Linked DNA regions of Homo sapiens: region 1 is linked to region 2. The links come from fine-mapping of genetic effects on gene expression. Tissue or cell type: prefrontal cortex. Region 2 holds a variant in brackets; the other region holds the start of a gene. All regions are shown on one strand. Distances are from middle to middle.

Region 1 (8,108 bases), 78 kb before region 2:
GGCGCTTGTGAAGCCATATGTTACTCAATAATAAATCCATCTTGAAAATTCGCCTATCCTTATGATGAGTTTAATTAAGTTTTGCATTTCTAGACTTTTATTTCAATTTTATTTTTTATTTAAAAATAGTTACTTAGAGATGTTGTATTTAAGCTGTCCACGTCAATTAATACAAATGTTGTTCTGTATATTTTACAGCAAGCAAATGGAAAGGCCAGTTTCAAAACAGGTTTTCTGGCTTCTAGTCCAGTGCTCTTTCTTCTTCCCCACATAGACTCCCATCTGAACATAGCTTTGTCTGGAAAGTCTGGGCGCTTGTGAAGCCATATGTTACTCAATAATAAATCCATCTTGAAAATTCGCCTATCCTTATGATGAGTTTAATTAAGTTTTGCATTTCTAGACTTTTATTTCAATTTTATTTTTTATTTAAAAATAGTTACTTAGAGATGTTGTATTTAAGCTGTCCACGTCAATTAATACAAATGTTGTTCTGTATATTTTAGGCAGAAACAATTGAGCCGTTCGCAAGGGGCATGAATTTGAGTTCTACATTTTCTGACCTAGTAGCAGTGATACATTTTTGATTAGTAGTGTTTCTGGCAAGAATGAGACCTATAGCCAATGGCCAAGGGACATGAGGAAGCAAAATAGCAGGTCGTCCATAAATTTGGTCTTATGCCACAAGCTTATTAAAACCAAAAGGGAATTTGTCCACAAAGACTGACTCTCTTGTTTTACAGTTGAGAAGACTATAGTTGCAAAACATAAAGAGGATTGCTGTAAGTCATAATTTAGTGGATGTCAAAACCGCTACTGGAACCCACCTCTTGGTTAATGAGTCCGTAGCTGTTTGTCCTCACCCCTCAGTGCTGCTCTGAAATCGATGAAGTTTTGTGTTTATGGTCAAACCATGGTTTTGATGCCACTGAAGAATAAGCATTTGTTGAGAATGAATAAAGATGTTTCACAAGAAACTTCAATAATTCATCTGTAAGTATTTTAAAAGTGTCTATAAGGCAATCTTCTCTATTGGAATCTTATGACCCGGTGGAGAAGCATAAGGAAAATGAAATAAACTATATAATGAAAACTATAATTCTCAAAATTTAACTAGATGTATTTTTAGTTCCAGTCTGACCTCCAGTCCTAGACCTACTAGGTATTAGGTATTTCCTACTAATAGGTAGTAGTTAGGTAATAGTTAGGTAGACCTACTAGGTACTAGGTATTAGGTATTAGGTATTTCCACCTAAATACCTTGCCTGAATCATAAATTAATTACATTGCTTCCTTTATTTTAGAAAACAAGTTCTCTAGTGCTTAATCTTAGTCTGTGAGTTTTAGCAATCAATAATTTTAACTCTAAGTTGATATGAGACAACACTTTGGTATGACTTTAAAGTAGCAAACAAATTTAAGAATGTATTTTAAGGAATATTTTGCCCATGGTATGTATAGGAAGCGTTATAAGGCTTAAGGAAGTAAGAAGTGAAGTGTTAAGCTCGAATTTTGTAAAAAAAAAAAAAAAAAAAAAATCACATTTGCTAACTTATTCTTCATGAAATTGAGTGATATTGAGAACGCTGACTGTAAAATAATAATTTTCTTGCTATTTTAGCATTCATATCTTTTAACACTGAACTAGGAGCCTAAACAGAGATGATCTTCATCAATAATATTTGCTCTCAAATAAAAATTTGACATCTCATTGTTTTGTCAATGATCATCAATGTAAAATATATTTAGCCAAATGATAGTTTGAGTTACCTTCTATTTGATTTACAAGACAAATAACTAAGACATTTACCAAAAAATAATAATAATCTCTAAAAATCATTCTATCACTTCGATCAAGGCAGACAAAATTAAAAAGTCAAAAAGATTATAGTTTATTGATTTCCTTAGGCTATGTAAAAATAAATGTGGTCCTGTATTTTTCTTACCATGAAACAAAATATTGAACTCTGCCCTTGAGGCATACTACCATACTTCAAATGCTGATCTTATCATTGCTTGCAAGTCAAACAGAGTTGGACTTTAAAAGGAGGAAAGGAAAACCCTGGAGCCACTAAGAAGCATCAAGGGTCAAGCTGTTAGTCTGGTTCTGCTCAGAATTTACCCAGGGTCACAATGCCTGGATAAGGCCACTTTGCTTCCAGATGACATTTTTCAATACAAACACACAACCAGAATTTGAAATTTACTATAAAAAGAGCCATATTCTGAAATTGGTTTTCTAGTTTACTTGGCATCTTATTTGTTTTAATTTGGAACAGGAAATAGCAGAATTTCCCCCCATGTTCCGCATTTTGAATTCTGTATGCGATAATAAATAATCATATAAATTATAAAATAATAATGACAAAGCAAATAGGAAATTGGTAAAGAGTTAGATGGGGGATTTTCTAATGTATTTAAAGTAAGGGCCACATCCCTTCTATGCTCCTGGATGCCCATTTTGTAATAAATTGTGAAATGTATCCATCAGTTTCTAAGTTGTAGTTAAAAGCTCCTCAAACAATGCACAGCACACAGAATAATCTTAATTAATATTTAATTAACTAAATGTTACTTGTTTGCGTGCTTGCACACTTGCTTGGATGAGTGACTCCTTTAAATTGATCTCTTGCTTCTTTTTGAAAGATTTTAGAACTTCCTGTCTATGATTCCTGGAAACGGACACCACTCAGTAGGTTTCATGGAAAGGAATCTGGCATCTCCCAGCCATACTTATGTACAGAGTTTGTGCTGCAGCCTGGAAAATAGCTGTAACTGTGTCAAGCAAGGATCAAAATCCTGGTCTGGAGGAGCTCAAGCTGAAAACACAAAGGCTTAAAAGGATAGGCACTTCTTACTGAAATTACTCCCATAGGCACCTTCTAGCTTCAATTTAGACTGAAATGTAAAAAGACATTAACAATTTCTTATATTTCCCTCTTTTCCAAATTCAAAATCCCTTGGAGCAGGAAAAGGGCAATTATGGCTAATTATGACTATTACTCCAATTCTATGCTCCTGTTAGCAATCAGATTTGCATTACTGGAGAAAAAAAATATTATCCTAAATAAAACATTCTGACTATGATTGCTTAGGAGCCAATCCGAAAATGATTAAGTTTAAATTACAAGGGATCTTTTTTGAGGGGGGGAGGAGAGTTGATAAAAAAACCTTTTAGAAAGGGAATCTACACACTACTAAAACCAAACAAACACAAGGGGGCAGGAAGAGCTCAAGCTCTGACTTCAAAACCTGTTGGCTGAAATGAGAGCTAAACTATTTTAGTGTGCCCTCCGGATATTTATCAATTTTCGTGGCATGCAAAGAAATGTGATGCTGACAAGTAGATTTAGTTTGTGCTTGGTCTAATTACTGCGAAGAGAACAGGAACGTCTCTAATGACAGCTACCCTAACAGAGTCGGATTTGGGAGCGCCTGGGGCCACATTCCCTAGAATTTATTCTTTGGTGCAAGACTAGCAATTCTGATCAGACTGCATTTCTCACGCATTCCAAATGCCCTTTTTCCCTTTTACTCTGTGAACCTCGGTTGCAAAGGAGGGGCTTGTTAAAAACTCACCAATCGGAGGACTGTGCCCATTGTAATTCACGAGGAGAAGGCAGCGTCTGGGCGCGCCGAAGGGGGCTGGGCTGGAGTGCAACCTGCTCTAGCTATGGCTTTTAATTCCAGCTGTCCTTTTGCAAATATGCCCCAGAATTTCTTCTCAAACGCTCTGGGTTTCGCTTCAAACTCAAAAAGCATTGCGTCTAACTTTCCCCTGGGTTTGCAAGTTTCCTTGGGAAATGGCCATGCCCTGCGCGGGATTTCATTGACTAGGGCGGAGGGGTGGGGGTGGCTAAAATGGGTAACCCTCGGTCGCCGGCAGATGAAGTGAACCCAGCACAGCAGTGTGTTCCGGCTCCTCTGCAGGAGTACCAGATCTATTAATAGCAGCCCAGAGAGTAGCGCAAGCAGGGGTGGGCAACTCCTGGCCACTTCTTCCCTCACTTCCAGGACAACCTGTTGCGCCTCTATCTCCTCCCCTCCCCGCAGTTTCCCCGCCTTGGCCTCTAAGAGCTGATTGGCAGAAATTACTACCCAACCCTCAGCTCCGCACCTCCTCCCCCGACCAACGATTGGCCACCTGGGAGGACTGGAGTAAGGGGTGCGAGCGGAGGGATTTCCCTCAAAGCCCAGGGTCCGGGGACCTGGAAAGTAGAAGTGGAGGGATTCAATTCTCCGCGCGATTGAGGCGCTAGCGGCGGAGCTGGACGGCCTGGGAAGGCTTCGGCTCCTCGGCTGCGGCTCCAGCCCGGACGGCGCCGCGCAACTTTGCCATCCTTCTGGCCCAGCCCCGGCTACAGGAGGACCCCGCGGGCAACGCGCGGAGTTCCTGGCACTTCCCGGCGGTGTCTCTTGTTGTCTGCCCGGGGACCGACTTCGCATGCTCTCAGGCTGACCTGTCCAAGCCCGAACACCGGGACCATGCACTCAGCCGGGACTCCCGGGTTATCCTCGCGCCGGACAGGCAACTCCACCAGCTTTCAACCAGGACCGCCACCGCCGCCCCGGCTGCTGCTGCTGCTGCTGCTTCTCCTGTCACTGGTAAGCCGCGTCCCGGCACAGCCCGCTGCCTTCGGCAGGGCGTTGCTGTCCCCTGGTCTCGCGGGGGCTGCAGGGGTCCCTGCTGAGGAGGCCATAGTGCTGGCGAACCGCGGACTCCGGGTGCCTTTCGGCCGTGAAGTCTGGCTGGATCCCCTGCATGACCTGGTGTTGCAGGTGCAGCCCGGGGACCGCTGCGCGGTTTCGGTACTAGACAACGACGCACTGGCCCAGCGACCGGGCCGCCTGAGTCCCAAGCGCTTCCCGTGCGACTTTGGCCCTGGCGAGGTGCGCTACTCTCACCTGGGCGCGCGCAGCCCGTCTCGGGACCGCGTCCGGCTGCAGCTGCGCTATGACGCGCCCGGAGGGGCAGTAGTGCTACCACTGGTACTGGAGGTGGAGGTGGTCTTCACCCAGCTGGAGGTTGTGACTCGGAACTTGCCTCTGGTCGTGGAAGAGCTGCTGGGGACCAGCAATGCCCTGGACGCGCGGAGCCTGGAGTTCGCCTTCCAGCCCGAGACAGAGGAGTGCCGCGTGGGCATCCTGTCCGGCTTGGGCGCGCTGCCTCGCTATGGAGAACTCCTCCACTACCCGCAGGTCCCTGGAGGAGCCAGAGAGGGAGGCGCCCCGGAGACTCTCCTGATGGACTGCAAAGCTTTCCAGGAACTAGGCGTGCGCTATCGCCACACAGCCGCCAGTCGCTCACCAAACAGGGACTGGATACCCATGGTGGTGGAGCTGCGTTCACGAGGGGCTCCTGTGGGCAGCCCTGCTTTGAAACGCGAGCACTTCCAGGTTCTGGTGAGGATCCGAGGAGGGGCCGAGAACACTGCACCCAAGCCCAGTTTCGTGGCCATGATGATGATGGAGGTGGACCAGTTTGTACTGACGGCCCTGACCCCAGACATGCTGGCAGCCGAGGATGCTGAGTCTCCCTCTGACCTGTTGATCTTCAACCTTACTTCTCCATTCCAGCCTGGCCAGGGCTACTTGGTGAGCACCGATGATCGCAGCCTGCCCCTTTCCTCCTTCACTCAGAGGGATCTGCGGCTCCTGAAGATTGCCTACCAGCCCCCTTCTGAAGACTCTGACCAGGAGCGCCTCTTTGAACTGGAATTGGAGGTAGTGGATCTAGAAGGAGCAGCTTCAGACCCTTTTGCCTTCATGGTAGTGGTGAAGCCCATGAACACAATGGCTCCGGTGGTCACCCGGAATACCGGTCTTATTCTCTATGAGGGTCAGTCTCGGCCCCTCACAGGCCCTGCAGGCAGTGGTCCGCAAAACTTGGTCATCAGCGATGAGGATGACCTAGAAGCAGTGCGGCTAGAGGTGGTGGCTGGGCTCCGGCATGGTCACCTTGTCATTCTGGGTGCTTCCAGTGGCAGCTCTGCTCCCAAGAGCTTTACAGTGGCTGAGCTGGCAGCCGGCCAGGTGGTCTACCAGCATGATGACAGAGACGGCTCGCTGAGCGACAACCTGGTGCTTCGCATGGTGGATGGAGGAGGCAGGCACCAGGTACAGTTTCTGTTCCCCATCACCTTAGTGCCTGTGGATGACCAGCCACCTGTTCTCAATGCCAACACGGGGCTGACACTGGCAGAGGGTGAAACAGTGCCCATCCTGCCCCTTTCCCTGAGTGCAACTGACATGGATTCAGATGATTCTCTGCTGCTTTTTGTGCTGGAGTCACCCTTCTTAACTACGGGGCATCTGCTTCTCCGCCAAACTCACCCTCCCCATGAGAAGCAGGAACTTCTCAGAGGCCTTTGGAGGAAGGAGGGGGCATTTTATGAGCGAACAGTGACAGAGTGGCAGCAGCAGGACATAACAGAGGGCAGGCTGTTCTATAGACACTCTGGGCCCCATAGTCCTGGGCCAGTCACAGACCAGTTCACATTTAGAGTCCAGGATAACCATGACCCTCCTAATCAGTCCGGGCTACAGCGGTTTGTGATTCGTATCCATCCTGTGGATCGCCTCCCTCCGGAGCTGGGCAGTGGCTGTCCCCTTCGTATGGTGGTACAGGAATCCCAGCTCACACCACTGAGGAAGAAGTGGCTGCGCTACACTGACCTGGACACAGATGACCGAGAACTACGTTACACAGTGACTCAGCCCCCCACAGACACAGACGAAAATCACCTGCCAGCCCCACTGGGTACCTTGGTCTTGACTGACAACCCCTCAGTCGTGGTGACCCATTTTACCCAAGCCCAGATCAACCATCATAAAATTGCTTACAGACCCCCGGGTCAAGAACTGGGCGTGGCTACTCGAGTGGCCCAGTTCCAGTTCCAGGTGGAAGACCGAGCTGGGAATGTGGCTCCAGGTACCTTTACCCTTTACTTGCATCCCGTGGACAACCAGCCACCTGAGATCCTCAACACCGGCTTCACTATTCAGGAGAAGGGTCACCACATCCTGAGTGAGACAGAGTTGCACGTGAATGATGTAGACACTGATGTTGCCCATATCTCTTTCACTCTCACTCAGGCACCCAAACATGGCCACATGAGAGTGTCTGGACAGATCCTGCATGTAGGGGGTCTCTTCCACTTGGAGGACATAAAACAGGGCCGAGTTTCCTATGCCCATAATGGGGACAAGTCCCTGACTGATAGCTGCTCCTTGGAAGTCAGTGACAGACATCATGTGGTGCCCATCACTCTCAGAGTAAATGTCCGGCCAGTGGATGATGAAGTGCCCATACTGAGCCATCCTACTGGCACTCTGGAGTCCTATCTAGATGTCTTAGAAAATGGGGCTACTGAAATCACTGCCAATGTTATTAAGGGGACCAATGAGGAAACTGATGACTTGATGTTGACTTTCCTCTTGGAAGATCCACCTTTGTATGGGGAAATCTTGGTCAATGGCATTCCAGCAGAGCAGTTTACTCAAAGGGACATCTTGGAGGGCTCTGTTGTATATACCCACACCAGTGGTGAGATAGGCCTATTGCCTAAAGCGGATTCTTTTAACCTGAGTCTGTCAGATATGTCTCAAGAATGGAGAATTGGTGGCAATACTATCCAAGGAGTTACTATATGGGTGACCATCCTGCCTGTTGATAGCCAGGCCCCAGAAATCTTTGTAGGTGAACAGTTGATAGTAATGGAAGGTGATAAAAGTGTTATAACATCAGTGCATATAAGTGCTGAAGATGTCGACTCCCTGAATGATGACATCTTGTGCACTATAGTTATTCAGCCTACTTCAGGTTATGTTGAAAACATTTCTCCAGCACCAGGCTCTGAGAAATCAAGAGCAGGGATTGCCATAAGTGCTTTCAACTTGAAAGATCTCAGGCAGGGCCACATAAACTATGTCCAGAGTGTCCATAAAGGGGTGGAACCTGTGGAGGACCGATTTGTATTTCGTTGTTCTGATGGCATTAACTTTTCAGAGAGACAGTTCTTCCCCATTGTAATCATTCCCACCAATGATGAACAGCCAGAGATGTTTATGAGAGAATTTATGGTGATGGAAGGCATGAGTCTGGTAAT
Region 2 (8,108 bases):
AATAAATGAAGGACCACTAAACTTTCAGCCAAGACATTAGAGTTTCTAATTGATGCAATAGATGTTTTTCTAACAATAAGTTAAATGAGCTCCCAGAACTCCTGGATCATGTGTTGCAGTGGGAGAACACAGAAAATGACAAAAAAAAAATAGTAAATATATATAGGATATAAGATTTTGGAAAGTACCGTAGAGAAAAACTAACCAGAATAAAGGGGTAGAGAGGGCTGGAGTTTGCACTGGGCTTGCTGTTTTATAAAAACTGAAAAGAGAAGCCCTCAGTGACTCAATATTCTTAAAATGTGCCATATTTAGAAGAGAATGATATTTTCTGGAATATCTCAGGAAAGGGTTAGAATCAAATCTTAAAATTAGCTAAGAATTGTTAAAATTTAGAGGAATAGGGATTCCCAGGAAGAGGAGAAAAACTAAGGATGTCCTGGGCAGAAGATACAGCACATACAAAAACAGCCACCTTTGTTCAGAAAAGAGTGAGAGGTTGGATGTGAGAGGATGGATATTTCTCTTTAAGGGGAAGTGATAGGATGTGAAGTCATAGGTGTTAGAATGGACAAGAAAAAGCTTGGTAGAGCATGACAAGAAGTTTGGAATGAAACCTAGGCTTGCTGGGACCACAGTTTAAAGTGGACAGGAGTGTGGCATAAAGGTGTTTTCATCTGATAATTTGTTTTGAAATCAGAGCTGTTTTATGTACTAATTTAATCAATTGCATGTTATTCTATCTTTTCTATTACTTTCTAGATGATGTTCCAATTAATGGAACGTAAACACAATAATTTTTTAAAATATTTTTTAAAAACAATGAGAACAAGTATTGGCAATAATGAAAGAATGGATACTGTCAATTATTGATGTAAATTAGTACAATTTAGTACAATTAGTAAATTAATACAATTAAATATGAGAGGATACCCACTAAAGTGCACAACTATACAGAGTAATCAATAAGAGAACAGCTGCAGAACCACAAAGACATGAAAGGGCTGGAGCAGCTGCAGCTGCTTCACACAGGAGGGGGATAGAGCAGCAATAAGGAATGGAAAGTGTCAGCCAAGGAAGAATAGGGGTCCTCATTTTAGGCAAGAGGACAAGGGTGATGGAAAGAGTGAGGGTGGCAAATCCCAGGAGCTGCAAGAATCTTGGCTTGACCTCCAAATGGGCAGATTAGAGTGCAAGGGGAACAATCAGGGTAGGTCAGGATGAACCTGGAAATCTGCAAAGAAAAGTCCACTTGATATGGGCAAAAGCTGTAGGCAAGAGGGGCAAAGGAGAAAGGAGCACAGGTGGGTGTAAGGCAGACGAATAGTAGTCCAGCAGTGGGCATGCAGGGTGGGCTTGGGCATGCGTGGCGTGGCAGGGCAGAGTGAGCTTGCATTTGTTGAATGATACTATTGACCTCAGAGCACTGTGTGTGTGTATGGGTTACCTGAGTCGATCTTTGAAGAAATCACAGGCGCTAATTAGCGTCACCCTCACCTGACTCTCCAGAAAAGGAAACAGAGATCCAGAGAAGTAACTTGGTCAGAGTCAGACAGCAGCTAGAAGTGATGTGGGTGGGCCTTGGACTCCAGTTCTGAGGAGCCTCCTAGCCCATGGCCTCTCCTCTCCAGAACAGCACTCAGGGTGCAGCAGACATTGGGCATAGTAAGTTTAGTAAGTTTCATCAGCGCAAAATGTGGAATGAGTTTCCTTGTTAAACGGACAAACTGACACAAAATTCCTGCTCTCCAATCTTTTTTTTTTTGAGACAGAGTTTCACTCTTGTTGCCCAGGCTGGAGTGCAATGGTGCGATCTTGGCTCACCACAACCTCTGCTTCCTGGGTACAAGCGATTCTCCTGCCTCAGCCTCCCGAGTAGCTGGGATTACAGGCATGCGCCACCATGCCTGGCTAGTTTTGCATTTTTAGTAGAGACGGGGTTTCTCTATGTTGGTTAGGCTGGGCTTGAACTCCCGACCTCAGGTGATCCACCTCAGCCTCCCAAAGTGCTGAGACTACAGGCATGAGCCACCACGCCCGGCCCCAATCTATTTATATTTTATAGTTGATAAATTAACTAAAAATAGGAAAGTCCATAATCCCATCATTTAAAACACCAAGCAGCTTCTCCTGTATCATGTCTCATTTTACGAAGCTACATTCACAGTATCAGTACCATTTGTTGTTGTGTTTTTAAGTGTTTTCGGTGTTCCAACAACAATTTCATATTTATTGTTTGGGAGTTGAATAACATTTTATTGATTTGATACACTATAAGATAGTTTTTAAGGTTTGGGGTTATTATAGAAAATATTGCAATGAATAGTTCCTTACAAATATATTTCTGCTTCTCTTAAAGCAAAAATCCCACAGAAGGAGCGACAAGATTGAAGGATATAACCATCTTTTTGCCCCTTGCACACATTGGCACATAGCTGTCCAAAAGGCTTGTGCTAATTTGAAAGCCAAACAACAGTAAACAAGAAAACAATTTCCCTACATAATCTCAGTTGTACAAGGTATTCTCTTTAATCTTTAGTACCTGTTAAGTTGATAGCTCAAAGTTGCTGCAGTTTTTATTTTTTAAAAGTTCGAGCAAAGATGAATGTATTTTCATGTCTTCGCTCACTCAGCGTTTTCCCTTGTGTAGATTTTTTTTTTGTCGTCTATTAAAGTTTTGAGATTTTCCTCTTTCATTTCTTTTTCTATGTGAACTGCAAAGAGAAGAAACTAGAATGAAAACTGTGCCTCTAGCTGTGTTTGTTACTTGGGCTTTTTTTTTTTTTACACCCTCTTTCAGAAAGACTTAAAAGGCATTACTGATGCCTTTGTTTGTAAACCTCACCTTACTCTGAAATAATTGGTGTAGATCAAAGGAAGTAGAGGGATGCGTGCAGAGTGATCAGCTGATAACCATTTTTCCTTTCATTTACCCAACATAGTCGCTTTCACATTAGAGAGATCACACACAAGGTTTATTTTCTGCTGATAGGCAGCCCACTCCATTTTGGTGGGAAGATGGAAGGGGAAAACCTTATCTTCAGAGTGGAATGGAAATCAATGAAAAGAACTGTCTGTTTGCTCTAAGGAATGGAGTGGAATATAGTGGGGAAGGGAGGCGGAGAAGGGATATTTGTTTTTCCTTAAGTGGTTATAATTAAAACCTTCCACCCAATTGCTCTGTGAACCGGAAAAAGTATTTGTGAAGTTGTGTGTGTGTTTTTTAGAACATC[A/G]CAAAGGAGCCTTGCAGCCCTCTGATTAGAAAACTTGCTCTCCAGTGGCACCTTGTGGGAAGTGAGTTATCCTGCAAGTTGGATATTTAGTTTTAGGATTAAACTAAATAGCCTCTGGTAGTTGTGCACTTCCTACCCATTACCTACTTCCCCTCCTAAAACAGCAAGGAATTTGTGAAGAATTATGTCAGCGATTGAATGTATGTGTAACAGTCTCTAGACTGTAAGCTGTATCTCCATGTACATATTCCAGAGTTGTGTATCAAACTAAGTAGCTGTATTGATTGTTAATGTTGTTTCATTAAAGTAATCTGTGGAATTTTGAAGATCACTCATTCAAGAAAGCACTAATTTATGGCTTTAAATTTTTATTTTCAAGGTGGAAACAAGTTAACGTACCAGAATTTTCGTCTGAATTGGGCATGGATCTCCTTTGAAAAGGAATATTACCTGGTCAATGAGGACTCCAAATTTCTAGATGTTGTTCTTAAACGTAGAGGTTACTTGGGAGAAACTTCTTTTATAAGTAAGTTTAATTTTTTATTTCTGTTTTAAAATTTTATTTTTCTAGCAAAGGTTTATAATTCTACAGTGATTAAAGTATCAGTTTAGTTCACTTAGAGCTTAAAGTTAAAATTTAAAAGTTCTCTAACTGCTAAAGAAACAAGCAACAGGTTTGTGTCAAGGTACTTATCTCTTCAAGCCTTCTGTGTACATATGATCTTTTTCTGGTATAAAAATTGGCAGGAACACTAATAAGTTACGAAACAAAAATAAATGTCACTAGATCTTAGAATGAGCTTAGGCAAATCTGTAATTTACCCGTAAGATAAAAGTTTTCTGAAACATGAGTATCGTGACCTTTCTTTGTAACAACAGTAAATTGTTAAATACTAATGATTTTCTTCTGCTTTACTTCGTTTAAATAAAACTAAGAGTCAGAAGCAAACGAATGAAACCTTTTTTCAACTCCAATTCAAGTTCATATTTGTTTTGTTTTGTTTGAGACGGAGGCTCGCTCTGTTGCCCAGGTTGGAGTGCAGTGGCGTGATCTCAGCTCACTGCAAGCTCCGCCTCCCAGGTTCACGCCATTCTCCTGCCTCAGCCTCTCAAGTAGCTGGGACTACAGGTGCCCACCACCATACCCAGCTAATTTTTTGTATTTTTAGTAGAGACGGGGTTTCACCGTGTTAGCCAGGATAGTCTCGATCTCCTGACCTCGTAATCTGCCCACCTCGGCCTCCCAAAGTGCTGGGATTACAGGCGTGAGCCACCGCGCCCGGCCTCAAGTTCATATTTGATTTTCATAGAAGCATAAAATAAAGTTGGCAGTATATTGGTACTTTTAAGCAGCAATATGGTTGGCACAAAATATTTAATATGTTGATAAAAATGGCAGCACCTGAAGCAACTATATTGTTTTTGGTACCATATATTTTATAGACATCTAGACCAATGGAATTTGCATGGGATAAAAAGAGATTTCATTGAGTGAGATTATCAACTAAGGTGGCAATCTGGGAAAATGTTGGCAAAGTAAAAAGTTAGTAAACCTATGCTTGTCTCCAAATGATTATTTTGAAATTTTACTGGGTCCATGAACTTCCAGATCCTCAAAGAGTAGACCTCTATGCACAGAAATACACACCCCTGCCACCCCCAACATCCCTCCCTGACACCCCCACACATCCCGCTGTAATTTTGCTGCAGCCAGAACCCCACCACTCTTTTTGATTTCCCCTGACATGTTTTGATTCTGAATATTAATTACCCCTTACTTTTAAAATTCTTTTTTTTTCCTTTTAACTTTAGAAGACCAGGTTTTCACACGACACTTTCCCTGTCTTTGAGGTTGCTCTGGTTGCAGGGGGGCTGGTCTCCCCGCGGCCTCACCCCCAGCCTCTGCTTCCATCTTCATTTTGCATGAGCCTCCACCTGGCTGTGCTTCTCATGCTTTGTATTTAGCCTAGGATATTCTGAGCACTCTCACTGCGCTCTCTTTTAGGGACATATTCTCTGTGCACATGTGCACATCCTGTCTTATCATCAGGGAGTGATTCGTCTTAACTCTGCTTTGTACTTGAACATATAGCAAATAAATCATGGGGAAAATGATAACTAAAAAACAGAGCACCTTACCGATTATTAAAAATAGGTTTATCTATTTTTTACCTGAGTTCCCACTCCTGGTGAGTTTATTTAATTTTTCACTCACAACAGGCCCCTGGATAACATTGGGAAAGTTAACAGTAGAAAAAGATTGTAAAATTATTTTTTTGCCTTTTTTTTTCTCCACTGCCTCTTTTTTCTTAAGCTGGATGCCAAAATGTCAAACAAGAGCTCTTTTTGTTGTTATTTTTTTCAATGCACTATTATTTTCTACGAATGTGGGGTTAACGGCAGTTCTACAAAGGCTCATAGGCTTTACTTGGTTCACTTCACATGGTTACTTAGTAACCTGGGGTGATAGAAAATTGGGAAGCCTTCTGTGTGTGGCCCACATCCTTCAGTCATTGAAGATGGTAACGGAATTCATGCTAGGACCTGGAATGGAAACCAGATTAAAATGAAGGGTAGCCTCATACAAGTTTTACAATGAATACGTTGCTTATAACTGTGCCCATACAACCTCTGCTTTTATTTATGGACTTTTAGAATGAGATAGATTGCATTATAGCAAAAGACAGAGTATCGCTTGAGTACAGCTAAGAAACCATGAATTACTGAAATTTGTAGATGTATATTCTCAAAGATTATTATTCATTTTATAACCACTAAAACTAATAAACTAGATATGTATTTATATTCCACATTAGTATATGCATTTCAAAGCTCTTATTGCTACCAGTTATTGAATATTTATTAAAGGCAAGGTACTTCATACGTACATTAAGCACTTTATCTATCTCTTTTATACCTTACATCCATCCTTTATTCCCTGACTCAACAAATATTTTATTGAGTACTCATTACATACCAGGGGCTGTGTTAGGTAGTGAACTATGAAGAAACAATGATAGCTAATGTTTATTGAGTTATTTGCTGGGCCTACTTCCCAATACCCTACCTAGGTCAACTCCATGAGAAGAGTACCATGAGGTGAGGAAATAGAGAGGCTGTGACATGTTTAAAGTTAGCCAGCTAGTAAGGGGCAGAGCTGAGATTGGGCAAAAGGCCCATGCTCTTAATCACTGCACCATAGTGCTTCATAAATCCTCCACTGAGATAAGTTAATAACTTGCCTACGATCCCACAACTGTTATATGGCCTGGATGGGATATAAAATCTATTCTCTCCTTCCACAAACACCCTGTTTAACCACTTTGTTATTTTTCTATGTCAGAGGAAAAGATCCAATTGCAGTTTCATTTAATAACAAAAGTGAAAAATTATAGGTGTTTTTAGCAGCAACAATTGGGATATGGTATTGCAACTCATTTAATATCAGATGGTATTGCAACTCATTTAATATTAGATGGCTTGACTATCGTGCAGGAAGGAGGACTAGTTGGAACTAGCAGACATTCATTGTATCACACTTACTCAATTTTTATTTTTAACTCCCTTTTGAAACTCCAAAAAAAACAAATAATGCATTGCTGATGAAAGAAAACAAAACAGAAAAGTGAGCAGTAGCTATCAGAGGCAAACTAACAGATTTTGCTGGTGATGCCACTGGGGATAGATGGGTCAGTGAGCAGCATGTGTTCTGGAACCTCAGAGAGAATGATTCCTTTCATCAGCATCTTGGCAGTGAATTGTAGTGGATCCAAGAGGTGCTGACAACCAACTCTGTGTGCACAAGGAACCAGAGAGCTGTCAGGAAGTCTACAGCATTCAACAAGATATGCAGCCCTGCAATTCCTGGTTCTGTGCCCTTTTTTCTCTTGCCATTAAATGAATCATGTTTTACCTGCTACTGTAAAAGAAAAATATGATGCAATATTTATGTTAGTTATTGTTCTGAGATCTGTAAGACAGAAATATTTTTAATAAAATCTTTTTCATCTTCACTTTAAGATTAAAATAACAGTCATTGATATATTCCTATATATAAATACATATTCAAATGACTCTTATATAAGCACTACGAAGGCAAGAGTTTTTGTCTGTTTTGTTCTCTGATACAGCCCCAGCACATGGAATAGAGCCTGGCATGGAATAAGTACTCAATGAATATTTGTGGTTGAATGGATCTTATTTAGTTCAGTTTCATTTCTAGTTTGAAGAACAAAAGGAATTTTTCAAAAGTATAATTTTTAACTAAATGCAAAATCTTCCAAATAACTTATTTTCAAGATTTAAAAAATCTATCACAAGACTTTATTTTTCCCTCTTTTATTTATTTATTTATGCATTTATGTATTTTTAATTTTTGAGGCAGGCTCTCACTCACCCAGGCTGGAGCACAGTGGCATAATCACAACTCACTACAGTCTTGACCTCCTAGGGCTCAGGTGATCCACCTCAGCCTCCCCAGTAGCAAGGACTACAGGCATGCGCCACCACACCCAGCTAATTTTTGTCTTTTTTGTAGAGATGGGGTTTCACCATGTTTCCCAGGATGGTCTGGAACTCCTGGGCTCAAGTGATCCACCCACCTCGCCCTTCCAAACTGCTGGGATGATAAACCTGAGCCACCATGCCCAGCCTTATTTTTCCAACTCTTTTACATCTGTCTGTCTTACCCACTTCTCTGAAAATGCTCAGGTTTAGAGAAATATATTTGAAAATTATTCTATTAACTTGACTCATTAAGAGGTTCTGGTTCTGTATTTAAGGATATAGAAGTCCAAGTACCATTGCCGTTTTATAATTTTTCTATGACATTGAATGTTTTCACTGCTTTTGGATAATGTACCCTATGGTTTGAGT

Which allele goes with the higher level. Positions count from the first base shown, and alleles are read on the strand shown. Sizes are in standard deviations (SD) of each study's normalised expression.
For the expression in prefrontal cortex of the gene that starts at base 4,218 in region 1, G is the low allele of the variant in region 2 and A is the other (large effect, 0.93 SD a copy in CommonMind).

What was found. PIP is the estimated chance that this variant, and not a neighbour inherited with it, causes the effect.
Region 1: it holds the start of FREM2, and the variant in region 2 is fine-mapped to the expression of FREM2 in prefrontal cortex (CommonMind, PIP 0.95).

What each region holds. Positions count from the first base shown.
Region 1 is chr13:38,682,860-38,690,967 of GRCh38, forward strand. It overlaps FREM2 (FRAS1 related extracellular matrix 2), which reads left to right and starts at 4,218. Exons shown (of 24, transcript NM_207361.6): 1 at 4,218-8,108. The coding sequence starts at 4,486. LINC00437 (long intergenic non-protein coding RNA 437) reads right to left here and starts at 3,816. Exons shown (of 3, transcript NR_126377.1): 1 at 3,580-3,816; 2 at 828-928.
Region 2 is chr13:38,760,692-38,768,799 of GRCh38, forward strand. It overlaps FREM2 (FRAS1 related extracellular matrix 2), which reads left to right. Exons shown (of 24, transcript NM_207361.6): 3 at 3,613-3,759. Among named protein-coding and RNA genes, the nearest start is that of FREM2-AS1, 63 kb to the right of the region's middle. The variant A/G (reference allele first, on the strand shown) is at 3,234.